Linked DNA regions of Homo sapiens: region 1 is reported to be linked to region 2. The links are microRNA targets in miRTarBase. Many come from high-throughput screens and were not tested one by one. Region 2 holds a microRNA gene; the other region holds the end of a gene's coding sequence.
Evidence for each region. Region 2 holds the annotated microRNA hsa-miR-6511a-3p (CCUCACCAUCCCUUCUGCCUGC, at 4,482-4,503, opposite strand). A microRNA usually pairs through its seed, bases 2 to 8, with sites in the 3' UTR of a target mRNA and lowers its output. Matches are read on the target gene's strand: a 7mer-m8 pairs with bases 2 to 8, a 7mer-A1 pairs with bases 2 to 7 and ends in A, and an 8mer does both.

Region 1 (7,108 bases), not on the chromosome of region 2:
AGTTTTGCTCTTATTGCCCAGGCTGGAGTGCAATGGCTCGATCTCAGCTCACTGCAACCTCCGCCTCCTGGGTTCAAGCGATTCTTCTGCCTCAGCCTCCTGAGTAGCTGAGATTACAGACATGGGCCACCACACCCAGCAAATTTTGGATTTTTATTAGAGACGGGGTTTCTCCATGTTGGTCAGGCTGGTCTCCGACTCCCGACCTCAAATGATCTGCCTGCTTTGGCCTCTCAAAGTGCTGAGATTACAGGCATAAGCCACCGCGCCCAGCTGAGGACAAAACTTAAAATGTCCATGGTTAAAGATGCAATTGTCAAAAAATTTTTGGTCAATTTTTTGTGGCCTAAAACTCAACATAGGCCAGGTGCGGTGGCTCACGCCTGTTATCCCAGCACTTTGGGAGGCCGAGGCAGGCGGATCACGAGGTCAGGAGTTTGAGACCAGCCTGACCAACATAGAGAAACCCCATCTATGTAAAAAACTGGCACAGTTGAAAGGCAGAACATCTAGAGCTTTAAAAATCAAGGATTCCAGGCCAGGCGCAGTGGCTCACGCCTGTAATCCCAGCACTTTGGGAGGCCGAGGCGGGCGGATCACGAGGTCAGGAGATCGAGACCATCCTGGCTAACATGGTGAAACCCCGTCTCTACTAAAAATACAAAAAAATTAGCCAGGGGTGGTGGCGGGCGCCTGTAGTCCCAGCTACTCGGGAGGCTGAGGCAGGAGAATGGCGTGAACCCGGGAGGTGGACCTTGCAGTGAGCTGAGATCACGCCACTGCACTCCAGCCTGGGCAACAGAGCGAGACTCCATCTCAAAAAATAAAAATAAATAAATAAAATCAAGGATTCCACTTTAAAATGGAATCTTGAGGACCCCACAAGATGGAAATACCACAGGACAGGGCTGTGTTTCCACAGTGCACCTCACTGCATGGACATTCCCTGATGCTGGTGGGACACCCAGCACCAATTAGCCCACTCTGTGATCTGTGATCAGCCCATCTCCCAAAGGATTCTTCCCCCTTGGTGATGAGTGTTTCTATAAGTCTCCAAGTGTTCAAACCATACTTTTCTTATTTAAACATGCAAAGGAATTAGTACACCCTGCAGTAATAACCACTCACTGAAAACAACTGCTATCAGCCAAAACTGCAGCCCTTGCCAGTAACTTGCCAGCCAGTGCACACCCAAAGATCATGTTCTTTCATAGAACAAAGTAACCCTTGGTACCCCCCAAGCCAAAAGGTCAGAGAACTCAGTGTAAAAGAGATCAGAGCTTTAGACCTAAGATAAACTGCCTGCTACACTTAGGATTCCATGAGGAAGACAGAAGACTCCATAAAAGGTGTATGTGACACTTTACTGTGTTCCTCAAAGGGTCTCAGAGATATTAGAAGACTCCTCTAGATTTCTTTATGTGGTATCAAAGATAGCTAAAGGAAGAAAAAGTAGAAGAAAATGGGAGAGCTCTAAGCCAATTTGGGGAGATTTTAAGTTTTTCAGAAGGCCAATAAAACTTTACATCATACTAACAAGAAAAGAAGCAAACAAAGGGACTAAACATATGTAAAAAGGGGTTTCAGTCAACAGAAAAAAAAAAAATTCCCAGAAACAGGCTCCAAATGAGAAAAAGCAGAAAGGTATTTTTTCTTAAAAAAAAAAAAAAAGCCTGAATATCAGCTTTTAATTAAGCTGACATCTGACCATAGAATTCATTGTATTTTATTTACTTACTTTTGTGACGGAGTCTCACTCTGTCGCCCAGGCTGGAGTTTGCTATAGTTTCATAGCTCACTGCAACCTCCGCCTCCCAGGTTCAAGTGATTCTCCTGCCTCAGCCTCCCAAGTAGCTGGGACTACAGGCACGCACCACCATGCCTGGCTAATTTTTGTATTTTTCAGTAGAGATGGGGTTTCGCCATGTTGGTCAGGCTGGTCTCGAACTCCCAACCTCAGGTGATCCGCCCACCTTGGCCTCCCAAAGTGCTGGAATTACAGGCATGAGCCACTGTGCCTGGCCTATAGAGCTCTTTTTAAAAAACCTTTCAAATATCTTATCAGAGTATAGCCTGCACAAACAGAAAGTAGGCCTCCCATCCAATTTGTCTGGTTTTAGAACAAACATATTAAGTTTCCTATTGTGCACACAAATATATTACTTTAGGAATTTCAAAAGATCTCCGTTTTGGCCACTGCATTTTAGGGTCATCTCGAGTGACCTGGGTCCATTTACCTAAGTTTTTGGAAATAGGATCTCCATAGGTTTCGAAGGGTGGGGGGGTTGCTCCTTAAGGGAAAGCTCAGTTTTCATGAGCAGTTTCAAATAATTGTAGAAATACCTTTTCAAAAGTGACCAAGGTTAGTACAGTGTATTTAGACGAAGTGTGTTGCTTTGTGAGCATCACTCCTCAATGAGTCACCAGTGAGTTGTGATTCACTCTTTTATGTGTCTTGGAATCTGTGATCACCTGTGTTGGCAGAGTGCTCAAGGTACCAGATGAACAACCTTTATGTGAATCTTCTGGCTGAGCTGAAAGCCCCTGAAGGTGTTCTTCTTGCAGAAGAAGTAGGGAGACCCTATGAGGCCACTATGCATCATGAACAAACATCCCGACACCTTCATAAATCTCTAGTCACCTAGAATTGGGTTTAGAGGGAGCAAGTGCCTCTTCACTCAGGGACAAGAGAACTGATATGGTTTGGATGTGTGTCTCCTCCAAATCTCATGTTGAAATGTGATCTCCAGTGTTGGACATGGGGCCTAGTGGGAGGTGTTGGATCATGAGGTATATTAGGCCATTCCTGCATTACTATAAAGAAATACCTGAGGCTGTGTAATTTATAAAGAAGAGAGGTTTAATTGGATCACTGTTCTGAGGGCTGTACGAGCATGGCTTCAGAATCTGCTTCTTGCTAGGTTCTCAAGAAGCTTACAATCATGGCAGAAGGTAAAGGGGGAGGAGGCATCTCACCTGGTGAGAGCAGGAGCAAGAGAGAAAGGAAGGAGGTGCCACAGACTTTTAAATAACCAAATCTTGTGAGAACTCACTACCTTGAGGACAGCACCAAGAGATTCAAGAGCGATCCACCCCCATGACCCAAACACCTCTCACCAGGCCCCATCTCCAACATTGAGGATTACATTTCAACATGAGATTTGGAGGGGACAAACATCCAAACTATAGTATGGGGGCAGATTCCTCATGAATAGCTTGCCACCATCCCCCTTGGTGAGAAGTGAGCTCTTGCTCTGAGTTCATGAAAGATTTGGTTGTTTAAAAGTGTGTGATGGGCTGGGTGCGGTGGCTGACACCTGTAATCCCAACACTTTGGGAAGCTGAGGCGGGTGGATCACTTGAGGCCAGGAATTTGAGACTAGCCTGGCCAACATGGCAAAACCCTGTCTCTGCTAAAAATATTATACAAAAATTAGCTGACATGGTGGTGCACACCTGTAATCCCAGCTACTCAGGAGGCTGAGGCAGGAGAATCACTTGAACCCAGGAGGCAGAGGTTGCAGTGAGCTGAGATCGTGCCATTGCACCCCAGCCTGGGCAACAAGAGCAAAACTCCATTTCAGAAAAAAAAAAAAAAAAGTGGGCCGGGCGCGGTGGCTCACGCCTATAATCCCACCACTCTGCTGTGAGGCCAAGGCGGGCGGATCACAAGGTCAGGAGATCGAGACCATCCTGGCTAACACGGTGAAACCCCGTCTCTACTAAAAATATTAAAAATTAGCTGGGCGTGGTGGCGGGCACCTGTAGTCCCAGCTACTCGGGAGGCTGAGGCAGGAGAATGGCGTGAACCCGGGAGGCGGAGGTTGCAATGAGCCGAGATCGTGCCACTGCACTCCAGCCTGGACAACAGAGCGAGACTCCTCAAAAAAAAAAAAAAAAATGTGTGACACTTCCCCCCCGCCTTGCTTCCTGTCTTGCCATGTGATATGCCAGCTCTTCCTTCATGTTCCATCATGATTGCAAGCTTCCTGAGGTCCCACCAGAAGCCATGCAGATGCTGGTGCCATGGCTGTACATCCTGCAGAACCATGAGCCAATTAATCCTCTTTTCTTTATAAATTACCCAGCCTTAGGTGTTCCTTTATAGTGACACAAAACAGACTAATAGAAGAACTCACCCTCATGAACCTTTCAGTTTGAAACAGAAATTGGTTACCATTGAAAAGACAAGACTGAGTTACAAGCAATAGGAAACAGCTGCAACTTTAAAATCATGGTATGTAGGCAGGCGCAGTGGCTCACGCCTGTAATCTCACCACTTTGGGAGGCCAAGATGGGCCGATCACTTGAGGTCAGGAGTTTGAGACCAGCCCAGCCAACATGGTGAAACCCCGTCTCTACTAAAAATACAAAAATTAGCCAGGTATGGTGGTGCAAGCCTGTAATCCCAGCTACTGGAGGGGCTGAGGCAGGAGAATGGCTTGAACCCAAGAGGCAGAGCCGAGGTTGCTCCACTGCACTCCAGCCTGGGCGACAGACTGAGACGCTTCATGAAAAACAAACGCAGTGGCTCACGCCTGTAATCCCAGCACTCTGGGAGGCCAAGATGGGCAGATCACCTGAGGTTGGGAGTTCGAGACCAGCCTGACCAACATGGAGAAACCCTGTCTCTACTAAAAATACAAAATTAGCCGGGCATGGTGGTGGGCGCCTGTAATCCCAGCTACTCAGAAGACTGAGGCAGGAGAATCACTTGAACCTGGGAGACGGAGGTTGCGGTGAGCCGAGATTGTGCCATTGCACTCCAGCCTGGGCAAGAAGAGTTGCCTTGAGACTCTGTCTCAAAAACAAACAAACAACTGAATCATACCCTGGAATAGAGACAGGAGGCTGTGCTGTGGAGGTCCACACGGCTGTAAAGGAAACTACATCTATTTGAAGTTGCAAATACTAGTCTTTTTTTTTCTCCATTGAAAAGACCATTAATTTCTTGGAGGTGAGGTCTCAGGTAAGGATGGGGCCTAGTAGGCTTAAGGCCACAGGAAGCAAATGACCCCCAGTCTACCCTTTTGTCTCTGCCATGCAGGCCCATCACACTGGGTTGGGGAGGTCCTCAGGAGGCTGTCACACATGGCCTTAGGTAATGGCAAGTCCTTCCTATTCAGCTCTCTGTCCAGCCTCCAATTGAGGAGGCATAACAAGGGAAAGGTGAGATGGAGGGGGTGGGGGTGGGGGCGGGGATCGGCCACCAAATCCAGCAAAAATGAGCAGCTCCACCTTATCTGCTCCAAAGCTATCACTGTCTCCACAGGTGTAAAGGCTCCTCCTCACATCGACTTTTGTAAATGAGTGAGCGACAGGCCTTGGCCAAGCTGAGACTTGGACGAAAACCTGAACGAGTGCCACTGGAAAGCCATCATCCTAGGTTTGTCCTTCCAATGCTGAGAACCATGGGCATTCCTCTCCTGAGTCAGCTGTGTGACCCCAGGCCAGGCCCTCACACCTGGCTGACCAGAGCACAGCCCAGGAGCTGGCAGTGAGCACACATTGACTCTCATTAGGATCCCGTCTGTCAGCATCTGCAAACATGATGCTGAGTTGACCCAAAGCTTTTCTTTTTCCGAGGAGGAGGCTGACACTCACAGGCCACACCCTGATCCCCAGTCCCCTGTAGTCTCCTGTTTGCTGAGATGGCCCCCAGGAAGCCTTGAATAGAGGCCTCAGGGGGAAAATGTCCTCAGCGTCCGTCTAGCGGCCAGTTTGTGTGCAGACATCATAAGTTTCTCTAGGTCATCCTACCCCATGTCCGCATCCCCCTCACCTCAGCATCCACTCTCATAACACATGAAGTAGCACCACCATGCAGCGCTGCCTTTGTCGGCGTCCTATGGCCCCAACTACAGCCTCAGCCCCACCAGAGTTCCAGCTGACATGTCCTCCCTCTGATGTTTCTGCAGTGTTACCTCTTTGAGGATGGAGGTGTGAGCTATGACTAAACTGGCAAATCCTGTCCCCACCTGCAAATGGAACCACAGCCAAAGGGTCTCCCTCGTCCCTGACTCTCAGGCACAGAGCTTTTCCCCATCGTGGATCTGAAGAGCACTCGGACCCTTTAGCTGTGGAAGGGATTCACAGAAGGCCAAGAAAGGGTTGGGCTGCGACCTGTGACCTCAGACCTTCGCTGGCTTCAGGACTGGGCTTGGCTTCCCTCCCCGGCGCACCTTCCGATGATGTCCCTGAAGGAAACCTGGCCCCGGGGTGCAGTCTGGTGCTGCGGCATTGGTCTTCTCTGTGGTGTGGATCCTCTGGTGGTGCAAGAGGGCAGGGCGCTCACGGAAGGCGCGGCCACACTGCGTGCACACGAAGGGCTTCTCGCCCGTGTGAATGCGCCGGTGGCTGAGCAGCACGGCGCCCTTGGCGAAACCCTTGCCACAGTCCACGCAGCGGAAGGGCCGCTCGCCCGTGTGCAGGAGCTGGTGCTGGGTGAGGTTGGAGCTGCGGCTAAAGGAGCGGCCGCACTGGGCGCAGGCGAAGGGCTTCTCGCCTGTGTGCACGCGCTGGTGCAAAAAGAGCGAGGAGCCCTGGCTGAAGGCAGCACCGCAGAGCGCGCATACGAAGGGCTTCTCGCCTGTGTGCGTACGCTCGTGCTGGATCAGGTGCGAGTTGCGGCAGAAGCGGCGGCCACACTGTGCGCAAGCATAAGGACGCCCACCCGCGTGGATCTTGCGGTGCTGGCTGAGGTTGGAGCCGTGGCTGAAGGCCTTGCCGCACTCGGAGCAGCGGAAGGACTTCTCGGCCGTGTGGATGCGCTGGTGCCGCACCAGCGAGGAGCTATGCCGGAAGGCCTTGCCGCACACGGGGCACGCGTAGGGCGTCTCGCCGCTGTGGATGCGCTGGTGCTGCGTCAAGTGCGACGTCTGGCTGAAGGCCTTGCCGCACTGGGTGCACTCGTAGGGCCGCTCCCCGGTGTGGGTGCGTAGGTGCTTGAGGAGGTCGGAGCTCTTCACGAACACTTTGCTGCACGCCCTGCATTCGAAGGACTTCTCCCCAGCGTGAAGAGCCTCGCCCAGCTCGTCCCAGGTCGAGGGCTCCTGGCCACCGAGGAGTCTATGAGGCTCCTGCCAAGCTGCGCCCATTCTGCGATCCC
Region 2 (7,120 bases):
TCCCAGCTACTCAGGAGAATCGCTTAAGGGGAATCGCTTAAACCCAGGAGCTGGAAGTTGCTGTGAGCCAAGATCACGCCATTGCACTCCAGCCTGGGCAACAGAGTGAGACTCCGTCTCCAAAAAAAGAAAAATGAAAACAAAAAGGGAATGCCAGAAGGGCAATTCCAATAAAGGAAAATGGAGGTATTGAAGAAACAGCCACGGGGAGGGTGCTGGCACCTCCGTCTGAGAGACGAGCTATGCAGTCAGGATCGCGGGTGGATGCATGGTCTCCCACAGTGGTAGCGATGCTCATGTCACTTGTGGGGCCACGCTACTGTGCAGAACGTGGGCTGCCCACCCTGACTGACTGGCACCTACTTCCAGCTAGGAGCTGTCCTAGTCCTCAGGGACAGTGAGTGCTCACGAGGTCATTCCCAGGATGAACACACGAGCCCTTCACACAGCACTGCAAAAACTGCCTTGTTCTGACGCCTGCGACGAGACTCACTCCCAGAGGGTGCAACCAGCACAGCCAGTGAGAGCAGGGGAGGCCCTGCCACCCCGCCGCGCCCCTCACCTGAGCCCCGGCCCCAGCCTGTCTTGACGAGGATCTCGTACTTGAAGCGGCCCCGCTGCCCACAGAAGGGGATGGCGCAGCCCCGGCTGGCATCCAACTGGTCCAGCTTGTGCAGGATGGCGGCCATGACCATGTAGGTCACCAGGCACACAGCACATGTCAGCATGACGATGTAGTTTACATCCGCTGTCGGCTCCTGTGAAGACACAGCCGCCGGGCCCAGGAGGTCACGTGCAAGCTGTGCCTTCTCAGGATAGAGCCGAGCCCACCCAGGCCCTCCTCGACTCTGCAGAGGCTCCCAGGAGCACAGGGTCACTCACAGGAAACACAAAGCGTACATGGCTTGGGGGCATGAAGAGGCTGGTGCCGAAGGCGGTGAGGTGGCGGGTGAGGCAGACGGCCTGGCGGGGCGAGGTCTCCTCCAGGGGCAGCAGCCCCTCTGTCCGCCACACCACATCCTCCTCGCTGAAGTACTGGCACAGGGACGTGTACAAGCCCACGGACACCTCCAGCGCCGACCAGCGGAAGTGGCTGGAGAGGTTCAGACGGTAACTCCCCACTGGGTCTCTGGTCCTGGGAAGGGAAGGGGCAGTGGACGTGAGCCCAGGCTCCGCCAGGTTGGATGTCGGAGTCCCAGAGCCCATACCCGGTCCAGTCCCCTCGCTGCCTGCCGTCCCCACGGGGCCCGTAACCCGGGCAATGCTGACCCATGATGCCCTGCCCTGCCCTGCCAGGCCGGCCCACAGAGCTCACCCCGGGGAAATGAAGAAGGTGTAGGGCCGGTGGTCGGCACCCTGGAGGGACTCTGGGCGGATCCTCCTGCTAGCCGAGCAGTTGCGCTCATTGGGCCGGGGCTCCGAGTGCAGGTAGACTGCCAGGTAGGGCTCGGGTTCCTCAGACAGGTAGCGGCCTGGGGCAGAACGCGCAGGTCACACGCCTGCCGGGAAGCTCAACCACCCGGGGGACACCCACGATGGCCCTCCTGAGCCCACCCTCTGCCACGGGCCTGAAAGGCCATAGGAGCCTCTGCACCAGAGCTGGCACCTGCTTCTCCGTGGCCCCCAGCTCCTCTCCGGCCAGGCCCCCAACAGCCCATGAAACAGCAAATTTCACCAGAGACACCCATGGAAGCCCTACGAGAAACGCCTTCCCCCCAAGAACAAGGCCAGGGGGCCGCGTGTGCCCCACCCGCTGCACACACCGTCCAGCAGCGTATAGTTGAGCTGCAGATGCAGCACGGCCACAGGGTTGCTGCTGTCCAGGGTGACCACAGCACCGACGGAGGCCTGGGGCTGGACCACAACGGAGTTGGCGGAGCTGCAGTGGCCCCGGGCAGCCCAGTCCGAGTTGTTGGGCACCTTCACGGTGATGGCGCGCTCTGAGGCCAGCCGCTCGATGGGGATCTGGGCGCCGGCCTGTGTCTGGAACGCCATCGAGGCCACCTTGGTGGAGACGGTGTAGTTGCTGATATAGCCAAAGAGAAAGGGATTGGAGTCCACCAGAAAGACGAGCTGCACCACGTCACTGAGGTTGGCCGGGGCCCTGCTGAAAGCCTAGGGGATGGAGAGGTGGCAGCCAGGCCCTGGGGCGCCGCCATAGCACAGCAGGCTCCGCGGGTCCGAGCGCTTGCCCTGGGCCATGATCTCCTCGCCCGCCAGCGTCACGGGCTCCTCGTTGAGCACGCGGGAGCGCGTGAGGATGCGCATGAGGGCAGAGGTCAGGTTGTAGGCCTGGGACGCCACCATCCGCAATGGTGACTCGGCTCCCAGCTCTGAGCGCTGCGGTGCCCGCACGTCTGAGCTGGCCAGGTGGATGAGGTCTCCTGCAGACAGGCGTGAGGTCAGTGCAGAGACAGGGAGGCAGAGGGAGGGTGGGGGCAGGCAAAAAGGGGGAGCTGGAGGGTGGGGGCTGGGAGAAAGGGGGAACCTGAGGGGGCAGAGAGCGAGGTGCAGGCAGAAGGAAGGGGGAAGCTGGAGAGAGAGTGGTGGAGGGGGAGGGGGAAGGGGATGGGGATGAGGACGAAGATGAGGGGGATGATGGGGAGAGGGAGGAAAAAGGAAGGAAAAGGGTAGAGAAAAGAGAAAGGGGAGAAGAGGAGGAGCAGGGGGAAAGGGAGGGGAAGGGGGATAAGGGGGATAAGGGAGGGGAAGGAGGATAAGGGAGGGGAAGGAGGATAAGGGGGATAAGAAAGATGAGGGGAATGGACAAAAGGACGGGGAGGATCGGGGGGGAAATGGAGAAAAGGGGAGAGAGATGGAGAAAGGGGAGGGAAGGGGGAGGGGAGGGGAGAGTGGAGGGCACAGAGCAGCATCTTCTTAGTCCCTCCCCACATCTGGGCCCCTCTTTACACCCTGGGTCCCCCGAGAGGCACCCTGCGTTCACACAGGACAGCAGAAAGGCTGAGGCTACTGAAGCAGGTCAGAGACCGAGGAACGCCACGGCAGGAAGGAGCCCAGGCTGGAGGCTCAGCTCCTCGGCCAAGCTGCCCGTCTGCCCTGGGGGGCTGAACCCAGTACCCTGGCAGGCATGCGGGGCGGGGTGAGCATGTGGGGCCATCCTACCATGCACTGGGCCAGCGCAGCAGCGATCTGCTGGATGTCATCCACAGTGTGGACCCTCAGGGACACCAGAGTCTCCGTGATGTTCTTGCGTATCTGGGCTCGGCGCTGCCGCTCGTGCTTGGGCTCTGCCGCCACGTCCAGGGCCCGCTCGTACTGGGGCAGGCAGGGGGCACAGCAAGCTGTCAGCAGGGCAGGAGGCCGGCAGGAGGCCAGCAGATGCCCACGACTCCCGGGGTGCAGTTACGTGCTAGATGCTGTGTGATGTGGGCACTGACCCGCAACACTGAGCTGTTTCTTCATGGGCAAAACAGGGTAAGCACATGGGCCCTCCTGGGCGGGGGCTGCATTGTGGAAAGCAGACGCCGGAGAGGGCCCGGTGGGTGTGGCTGCTGGGAGCGGAACGTCGGGGTGCTGCTTCAGGGTCACTGGGATTTATCTCTGGGGCCCGGGATGAGCCCTCCGCAAAGCTCCAGGCAGGGGAACAGGTCTTGGTCCCCAGCACGCATGCAGCAGATGTGAGGTCCCCTCCCAGGCTGCACTCACCTCGTTCAGCACAGTGACCAGGGCCAGCGAGTACTCGATGACGTGCTGGGGATCGGCCTGCCGCAGCAGCCCCGGGAGCACACTAGCGGTGAGCCGGTGCAGCCAGACTGTGAGCCCCATTGCGCTGCCGTTGGGCTCTGGGAGGGTGATGGCCAGAGACCTACGAGCAGAGGGGGGTGGTGAGCAGGTGGCAGTCTCGGGGGCGCCCTCCCACGGCCTGGCTCACCTGTTGAGGGCGACCACAGCGGCTCCCAGCTGGTCCTGCACCACCACGGCCAGGCCCACCTCGAAGTGTGGCCTGAAACCCGGGGGCAGCACGGCTCCGTAGCCGGAGAGGCTGCTCTTGTAGACACAGAACTCTTTGCAGTGGCCCTGGCAACAGCGCTGCAGCAGCAGGGCATACACCAGCGGGGCGCCAGCATCCTCCGCGTCATGCCAGCCTGAGGGATGGTCCCCACAGCATCACGGGAGGGCTCCGTGACCTCACAGAGTCGGGGGATCCCGCTGCTCCCCCTACGCAGGCCTGCACTCACCCGTGCATTTGAAGTGCACCTTGGTGGTGAGGGCGTGCACAGCGCCCAGTGGGAAGAGGCAGCAAGAGCCCCCCAGCGGCGGGCGGTTGGGGGACAGGGGGATGGAGGCGCAGCCCTCCTCCTCGCCAGAGCGGCCCAGCACCGTCAGCGTGAAGGTGTATCCCTCGCCGTCCCGCAGCACGCCCCGCCGCAGCACCAGTCACATGCCTGCGCTGCCCGTGGATGTGGTGGTCTCATCCAGCACCAGCGTCTTGTTGCTGAACGTACGTGCAGCCCACCGCTGCAGGCAGAAGGGATGGTGAGGGGGCGCAACCCTCTGCCCTGTCAGCCCCACTTCTGCCTGCAGGCCCCGTCCCCTCGGCCATGGGACCCATCCCCAACCCGCCCACACCCCGCTCAACACTCACCCCTCGCTTGGAGCCGCTGCTGCAATTGAGGCAGCGGCCCTCCAGGTACACGTAGGAGCTGCGGCTCACTTCGTACACGGCCTGTGCCTTGCAGGACACACACTCCAAGGACACAATGGGCACCCGGCCACTGCGGATCAGCACCTGGCGTGGGAGTGGGGTTACCTCCAACACAGGTCTATTTGGCCTGCTGGAAGGTCTGGGGGACCCGTGGAGGATGCTGCTCCCAAACTCCAGGTTTCCCAGGGGCCTGGCCACTGCCGGTGAGCTCACCCCCTCCCAGGATACTCATCCGGTTTGCCACCTTCCAACCTGGGCGGCGGAAGGGCATACACAGGGCAGAGGACACTGGGGTGTGTGTTCTGGTGTACTGGAGCCAGCTGGACCCTGGCAGGAGGCAGGCAATGCTCACTGAGGGCCCCTGGGGGGATGCGTGTGGGAACAGACGTATGTGGGGGTGTGAGGACCGCAGTTGCCACGTAGGCCTGACTCACAGACTCCTGCAGCCCTTAGCCAGGGCCTGGGTCAGGAGGCTGAGCCGGGATGGAACCTGCTCCCACACCCTCCCCTCAGACGACCCCTCTGGGCAGACCCCCAATCAGGCCCGTTGAGGAAAGCAGGGACTGGGGAACAGACACCCACTCTGGGGCACCAGCAGGCCCCGCCTGACAGCAGCAGGAGCAGCCACCACGGGCTCAGGGTCACCAAGCCTCCTGGCCGGTCCAGAGTGGGGAGCATGAGGGTGAGAACCGGCCCACCACATCCAGCAACAGGGACATGGGCTGGGGACAGTGGCTGCCTCTGGGGTGGGAAGGGGCTCTTCCTCACTGTTGGTATTGCTGGGGGACTGTGTAGCTTTTGTCACTAGAGCATATGTGGCTTGAAGACTGTATGTGGAACTGTGGCAGGTTTGGAAGGAAGCAAAGCTGAAGCAGGCTGTCGTGTTACATAGAATTTGCATCAGAAACAGAGAGGGGAGAGCGCGCGGCCTCCACCAGCACTAAAACACGGAAAACAGTAGATGAGCAGGGAGGCTGGGCTGTCCAAGGCAAGTGGCCGAGGGGCGGGCGGCACCCACCGTCTGGTTGGTGGCCTCCTCCTTGTGGCCGGCCTTCCACACGGTGAGGCTGAAGGTGTACTCCACGCCAGCTGCCAGCCGTTCCCGTGGAATGGTGACCGTGCTGCTCCCGCGGGGCCCAAAGTTCAGCGCACACCCGCCAGCCTCCCTCTGCAGGCCGAGAACAAGGGGCGACGTGGCCCGAGAACCCCATCCAGTTTTAAAGCAGAGCCCGGCCCAGGAGACAGCGCGGGAGACCCCCTCCCCATGCTGGGACGGGGCCCACCAGGCACTGAGGACGGGCCAGCCCTGGTGGCAAGCTGGGTGTTCTCTGGGCTCATGGGTGTGGACGGGTGAGGGGCAGGGAGGACGGCCCTGCCACGCACTGACCTGTGTCGAAGCCACACAGGCCCACTGGAAACTGAGCGGCGTCTGGTCGCCGTCCTCCAGGTTGGGGTCGTAGGACTCGCTCCCATCCAGCACCAGGTCCTGTGTGTCTGACCACACGCGGTAGGAGCCACCCTCAGTGATGGGCACCAGGCGCTCGGGGGCCACCGTCACATTGGCCTGGATGCTCCGTGCCAGTGGCGTGTCCCCAAATGACACGACAAACACAAAGCAGTAGTGCCCCACAGGCAGCGCCAGCCGCGGCAGCACCAGCTGAGGCCGGCTCACGTCCACGCCGGGCAGGGCCACACGCGCCGGGCACCCCGGCCGCTGGCAGCTGGCGGTGCGGTACACCTCCCAGCGGTACTCAGTCTGGTAGGTGACACAGTCGCGCAGGTCAACGTAGGCATCCAGGCAGTTGCGCTGTGATCGTCGCATCAGCACCTGCAGGGGCAGGACCACGTCCACCTCCGGCTCCCGGCAGGCCAGCACCTGGACGGTCACCGTGGCCTGCGCCACGAAAAAGCTCACCAGGTTGGAGGCGTTCACCTGCACGCGGTAGTCCCCAGGCCTCAGGTAGGAGTGCTCGGCCCTGGGCTTATCTGTGTCCTGCCCTGGGGACCCATCCCCAAAGTCCCAGTGGTAGGCCACGCGCCGGGGGCTGGGGCTGGTGGCGGCCTCAAACTGCGCCAAGCGGTTGGTGAAGCAGGGGCCGCTCCGCAGGGCCACATACTGGACGGCGTCCTGAACCTCCAGCACCAGCGTGCGGTTCTCACTGCCCAGGGCGTTGAAGGCACGCACCTGGATCTCCAACAGCCCCGCGGCCACGGCGTGTAGGTGACGTCGCGGCCCGACAGGATGAACAGAGAGTCGCCCCGGACCTTCTGCAGCGAGAAGTACCAGGCGTAGGCGACCCGAGAGCCGCGCTGCACGCGGGCTGTGAAGTTCCTCTCAGTGCCCATGGCGATGCCAGGCTCACAGCAGTTGGGCACCTGCAGCCCGCTCACGGCCTCCAGCACCACGATGCGCACCTGCGCCTGGGCCCAGCTCACGTGGTTTTTGCCCTGCAC

Region 1: the mRNA of ZNF324B is a reported target of hsa-miR-6511a-3p. The part of its 3' UTR that is shown has no 7-base or 8-base seed match.

The regions. Positions count from the first base shown.
Region 1 is chr19:58,455,603-58,462,710 of GRCh38, reverse strand. ZNF324B (zinc finger protein 324B) reads right to left here. Exons shown (of 4, transcript NM_207395.3): 4 at 4,878-7,108. The coding sequence ends at 6,132. Among named protein-coding and RNA genes, the nearest start is that of ZNF324B, 7.5 kb to the right of the region's middle.
Region 2 is chr16:16,366,302-16,373,421 of GRCh38, reverse strand. It overlaps MIR6511A3 (microRNA 6511a-3), which reads right to left and starts at 4,546; the gene lies at 4,480-4,546. It also overlaps the pseudogene PKD1P2. RefSeq lists enhancers at 1,777-2,677, 3,649-4,561.